Regions from separate parts of the Homo sapiens genome. Here region 2 is linked to region 1. The links come from fine-mapping of genetic effects on gene expression. Tissue or cell type: whole blood. Region 1 holds a variant in brackets; the other region holds the start of a gene. All regions are shown on one strand. Distances are from middle to middle.

Region 1 (2,686 bases):
CCTTACTCTCCCCGTAGGATCTTTACTTTAGAATGACAAGGGACATCGCCCCCAGGATCGGATATCCTAAACCCGTCCTGCTGCATTCTTCCTTCTTCTCTGACCTGCAGGGCATCCAGAACAAAATGAGTGCCAGTGACCCCAGCTCTTTTATCTTCCTCACCAACATGGCCATGCAGATCAAGACCAAGGTGAGCAGTGCCCAGGGCACAGGACAGCCAGTGGGAGTAGAAACATGCCCCGGGGGGACACACACAAACACACACCATTGCACAGTCCTTTGGGCCCCAGCCACCATAGCGATGCTGAATTCCAGGAGTCCAGGATTCCCAACTATGCTCCCTGCAGAACTCAAGGCAGCCTTGTCCCTATTCCCAGGTATCACATGAATTTGTTTTGTGTCCTTTCATTTAGCTAACATTTTGAATTTCTTTCTTTCTTTCTTTCTTTTTTTTTTTTGAGATGGAGTCTCACTCTGTCATCTAGGCTGGAGTGCAGTGGCATGATCTTGGCTTACTGCAACCTCTGCCTTCTGGGTTTAAGTGAATCTCCTGCCTCAGCCTCCTGAGTAGCTGGGATTACAGGCATGCCCCCCCAGGCCCTGCACCCAGTTAATTTTTGTATTTTTTAGTAGAGACGGGGTTTCTCCATGTTGACCAGGTTGATCTCGAACTCCTGACCTCAGGTGATCCGCCCGCCTCAGCCTCTCAAAATGCTTGTATTACAGGCATGAGCCACCACGCCCAGACAATTTTTTTTTCCTTTTCTGCTTTTCTTACCAACGCTGTACTAGAAGCAAAGTCACGACGATGTTCTTAAAGTTATAATTAATGTGGATATTATTAAACAATGAAAATGAGTTTTGTATATTTCTGATCATCAGCTGTGTTCCAGGGGCTGGACCGGGTGCCTTATTTATGTTATCTCATTTTTAATTCTCACTGGGAGGTAGCAGGGCTAATCCTTTTAAAGATGAGAGAAGGCCTTCTCTTTTTTTTTTTCTTTTCTTTTTCTTTTCCTTTTTATTTTTTTCTTAAGGAAAGGGAAGATAAACATCCATTTGCTATTTTTTTTTCAGCCCCGCAGGCCCACCCACCAGCCAGCCTACATGGTGCCAGCCCCTCCTGCAGGGCCTTGCCTGAGCCTCTCCCATGACTGCTGCTTTCTCTGCCTAGCTTCTGGGCAGTGCCCTGCCAAGATAGAGACCTGTGCCTTTGCCCCAACATTCGTCTGCTCCTTCTACACGATCCCAAGTTATCCAGTTAAGAATCTGCTCTGGAATTCTCCTTGGGAGGCTGAGGCAGGAGAGTCACCTGAGCCCCAGAGGTCAAGGCTGCAGTGAGCGGTGATCGTACCACTGTACTCCAGCTTGGGTGACAGAGAAGAGACCCTGCCT[C/CA]AAAAAAAAAAAAAAAAGAAAATTTGTATGATCTTTGTATATTAGAGCTTTCTCAAATGCTCATTGAAAGAATGTTGAAGGAATTGTGCCAATCTTTGCTGACTTTTATTTTTCCCACCTCTTAGCCCTAATTACGCCATGATTATCTTCAATGATTCCTAAAAGTCATTTCGTTAGTTTTAGAATTTTTCAGCTCCTAAACTTTGCCTGTTTTTAAGCGGAGACCTGCCTGCAGGCCCTTTCTACCTGTTCACTTTTGGTGGGTTTTGCTTTCCCTTATTGCCTTATTCTCGTGCCTTCTTGTTCTGCTTTCCATGGTGGAGAAGGCAGAAGCCAGTTGGGTTGGGTGCTGCTTTTCTGTCCCCTGTTAACACCCCACTACCTGTCCCAAAGAGCCAGCTGCCCTCCCTGCCATCTCCTTTCCTCTGAGGATGGCTTACTCATCCTTTTTCTTTTATTTATTTATTTTTTTAGAAACAGGATCTTGCCCTGTAACCCAGGCTGGAGTGCAGTGGTACAGTCATAGTACACTGTAACCTCGAACTCCTGGGCTCAAGTGATCCTTCCACCTCACTCTCCTAGGACTTTGGGTGCATGTCACCACACCAGCTAATTCCTTAATTGTTTTTGTAGAGACAGGGGCTCACTATGTCTCACTAAGTTGCCCAGGCTGGTCTTGACCTCCTGGCCTCAATCAATCCTCCCACCTCTGCCTCCCAAAGTGCCGAGGCAGGAGGATCTCCCAAACTCCTCTCCCAAGTTTCAGTTCAATTAGTGCTTTGGCTTTCCCAACTCTAGTCTCCTGTATCTCTGACGATGGGGGAGCACAAAGCTAATCTGCCCCCCGCCTCTCCTGCAGTGAGCCCCATGGTAGCTCAGGCTTTGCAGGAAGGAACAATGGTGGGGCTGCCGGCTGTGCACCTTGGCCTTTCTATGGTCCAGAATGTGACAGCACTCACACCTTTGACTTCCACACTTGGGCCCCTAGCCAGTTTCCAGGCACAGGATGAGCAGGACTCATGAGTGGTTCTGTGTTCTCTTCTGGTGCAGATCAGTAAGCATGCATTTTCTGGAGAGAGAGACACCATCGAGGAGCACAGGCACTTTGGGGGCAACTGTGTTGTGGACGTGTCTTTCATGTACTTGACCTTCCTCAAGGATGAAGACAAGCTCGAGCAGATGAGGAAGGTGAGCAGGGAGCCCCAAGGACCCAGTCATCCCATTTCCAACCACCCACTCCTGCATATGGGTCCTGGAAGCTCCAACAGCTGGGCATTAAGGGTTTGTAGG
Region 2 (2,686 bases), 84 kb before region 1:
AGGGTCATATGATATTTATGAAAAAATTGATTATTTCAAAAAGATTCACAATCCCATTCTCTAACACATAATCTATTTTTACTTTCCCGCATCCTATAACTTGGATCTTGATAAGACTCGATTCGTTGTTTTATGTGGTTTGCAATCTCAACAAAACAAAATTTGTGTTCTTTGACAAGGATAATGCATAATCCTGACTTCAGTCTTCCCTTTTAGTCAGAACCTACCTATTTAAGGTTATTTTCCATATTAACTATTGATGATCAAAATAAGTCTAACTCGTGTTTTTCCTAGTGTTTCATAATTTTAGTTACAGAAACGATGCAGATAAAATTAATCTAACATGCGTCTTCCTGACTCTAGTACGTTGAATCTGGCCAGAAAAACCACATTTGCTCTCTACGTAGGTAATATAAATCCATCATTAGCGAAATTGCTGCATCCCTTTGGACTGGGTCTCATTAGCAGAGGTTGGAGTGGCCACTGGCCGGCACACGACACTTTAGGCCAGCAGGGGGCGGGTAAGCTCCAGGGCACTCGCCCGAGCAGCAGGGGGCGTGTCTTCTGCTTCCTTGACGGACAGCTAAGGATGCGGGAGAGGATGAGGTAATAGGAGCCGGGGCAAGGAAGGAGTTGGGGTGCGCGCGCGTGTGTGTGCGACTGTGAGTGTGCCAGTGCGTGCGCAAGCCCCGAGACAATGCGTGTCTCCAGTTCGCGCTGCGGACACTGATCATGCTGCATTAAGGAAAAAAAAAGAGAGAGAGAGAGAAAATTACATTTGGGGGAAGGAGGCTGCAAAGTTGCGGCTGGGCGACAGTGGTGGTCCCGGGGCCGTGTCATGGCGGGTCGCTTCTCTGCATCAAGGAACCAGGGAAACACACGCGGGCGCGGGTTTGCCTTAGCGCCCTGCTTGGGAGGGGTGGTTCATTCTGGAAGGAACTGAGCAGAGCCACAGGCAGGGGGAGCTCTCCCAGCGGCGGGGACTGCAATTCGTGCGGCGAAGGGGTGGGGAGGGAGGGAGAGAGGGGAGGGGACCAGAGCGTGCCATTCCGAGCGCGGCCGTGCGGCGAGATCCCACCCCGGCGTCTGCAGAGGCCGAGGCGCAACTGGTGCGAGGGCTGGGTCCTTGCCTCGCCGTCAGCCCCAGCTCGCGGCCGCCGGGGCTCGGGCCGCGCGCCCGCCGAGTGGCTTTTGCAAGGCGGGGGCCTGTTTGCAGAGAGCCGGGCATTTGCATGAAGCGACTCGACCCCACAGAGCAGCGGCAGCAGCAGCGGACCCCGGCGGCGGCGGCGGCGCGCGGTCCCAGCCAGGCGGCCCCGGTGTCCCGGCCCCGGTGGATGCACGGCTGGGGAGGAGCCCATGGGCCGGAGCTGAGGCTGCCCGGGGCGGCGGGGCGCGGGGCAGGGGGCGCGGTCGAGGCCCGGAGGCGGCGGCGCAGGAGGAAGCGGAGGAGGTCGGGCGCTCGGGGCCCGGGAGGCGGGCCGCGCAGCGCCGCAGCCCCGGGCTCGCCATGCTCCTGGCCTCGGCCGTGGTGGTCTGGGAATGGCTGAACGAGCACGGCCGCTGGCGTCCCTACAGCCCAGCGGTGAGCCACCACATCGAGGCGGTGGTCCGCGCCGGCCCCCGCGCGGGGGGCAGCGTGGTGCTGGGCCAGGTGGACAGCCGTCTCGCGCCCTACATCATCGACCTGCAGTCCATGAACCAGTTCCGCCAAGACACGGGTGAGCCAGCCGCCCCTGACCCCGCCCCGCCTGCTCCCACCTTCCCAACCTGCCAAGGTACCTCCCTCCCTGTGAACCCACCTTGGCCACCTAGTCGGCACTTCTGTGCAGCAGTGTCACCAAGAGGTGGTGGTGGGAGGCGATTCACTCCGCTGAATCCTCGCAGGATCCTCCCTCCCCCTTAAACATCCATGCAAATAGTATCAGTGTTGTGGTTTTGCAAACCCAGCTTCAACCTAGTCGGTAACAATCCACTCCCCACCCCTTTCATGCCCCCGCTTTTCAGCAGTTGGTGGCCCTAAGTCTTTCTATGTAGAAATTCTAGGGCCGCCCCAGACTACAGGCAATCCCAGCCCTTCGCAAAGGCTTCCTGCCCTCATCCCGTGGCGGCCGGCACCTTGGCTGACCTGACCCTGTTTTGCTTCAGGCACGCTGGGGCTTGCCACACGTCCCCTCACCCCCGATCTCACTGCCTCTGCGTCTCCTGTGTGGGATGCCTCCCCGCAGCTGGGTCCTGGGTGTGGGAACTGGGGGAGGAAGAAGGGATTCCCCGGAGGTTCTCGCTACAGTCGGGTAAGGGAAGCGCCGGGCTCCCTGGGAGGAGAGACTAGGGCTGGGGTACCCTGGACGCCGCGGCATTGGCGAATGCCTCTGCTACACACTACATGCGCGGAAGCAACAGGCCGGAGCAGATGGAGAGAGGAGGGGGAGGCTCGGGGCTTCGGAATGCATGGCAGGGAAGCCGCTCCCTTTGTCTGCGGAGGAGGAGGACGCAGATTCCTAAGGAGAAACTGTCCCCAGGCTTCCTCTTGAAACCATAGCCTGTAAGGAACCCATGGTCTCCTGGAGCGCCAAACTCCTATCTTTTCATGAGAATCAAGTTGTCACTGTAGCCAGCACAAACCCGCTTCCCAGCTGACCTGCCTTTCCAGGTCAGAGCCAGGAAGGGAGCCTCCAGGATGGGG

The links. PIP is the estimated chance that this variant, and not a neighbour inherited with it, causes the effect.
Region 2: it holds the start of DTX4, and the variant in region 1 is fine-mapped to the expression of DTX4 in whole blood (INTERVAL, PIP above 0.99).

What each region holds. Positions count from the first base shown.
Region 1 is chr11:59,255,345-59,258,030 of GRCh38, forward strand. It overlaps the pseudogene WARS1P1. Among named protein-coding and RNA genes, the nearest start is that of MPEG1, 44 kb to the left of the region's middle. The variant C/CA (reference allele first, on the strand shown) is at 1,397.
Region 2 is chr11:59,171,086-59,173,771 of GRCh38, forward strand. It overlaps DTX4 (deltex E3 ubiquitin ligase 4), which reads left to right and starts at 1,047. Exons shown (of 9, transcript NM_015177.2): 1 at 1,047-1,721. The coding sequence starts at 1,511. It overlaps LOC124902601 (basic proline-rich protein-like), which reads right to left and starts at 2,360. Exons shown (of 2, transcript XM_047427951.1): 1 at 2,180-2,360; 2 at 1-1,645. The coding sequence starts at 2,360. The coding sequence ends at 837. It overlaps LOC124902675 (a long non-coding RNA gene), which reads right to left. Exons shown (of 4, transcript XR_007062682.1): 4 at 2,614-2,686. RefSeq lists enhancers at 184-724, 811-1,105, 1,733-2,561, 2,004-2,113 and silencers at 984-1,553, 1,614-1,663.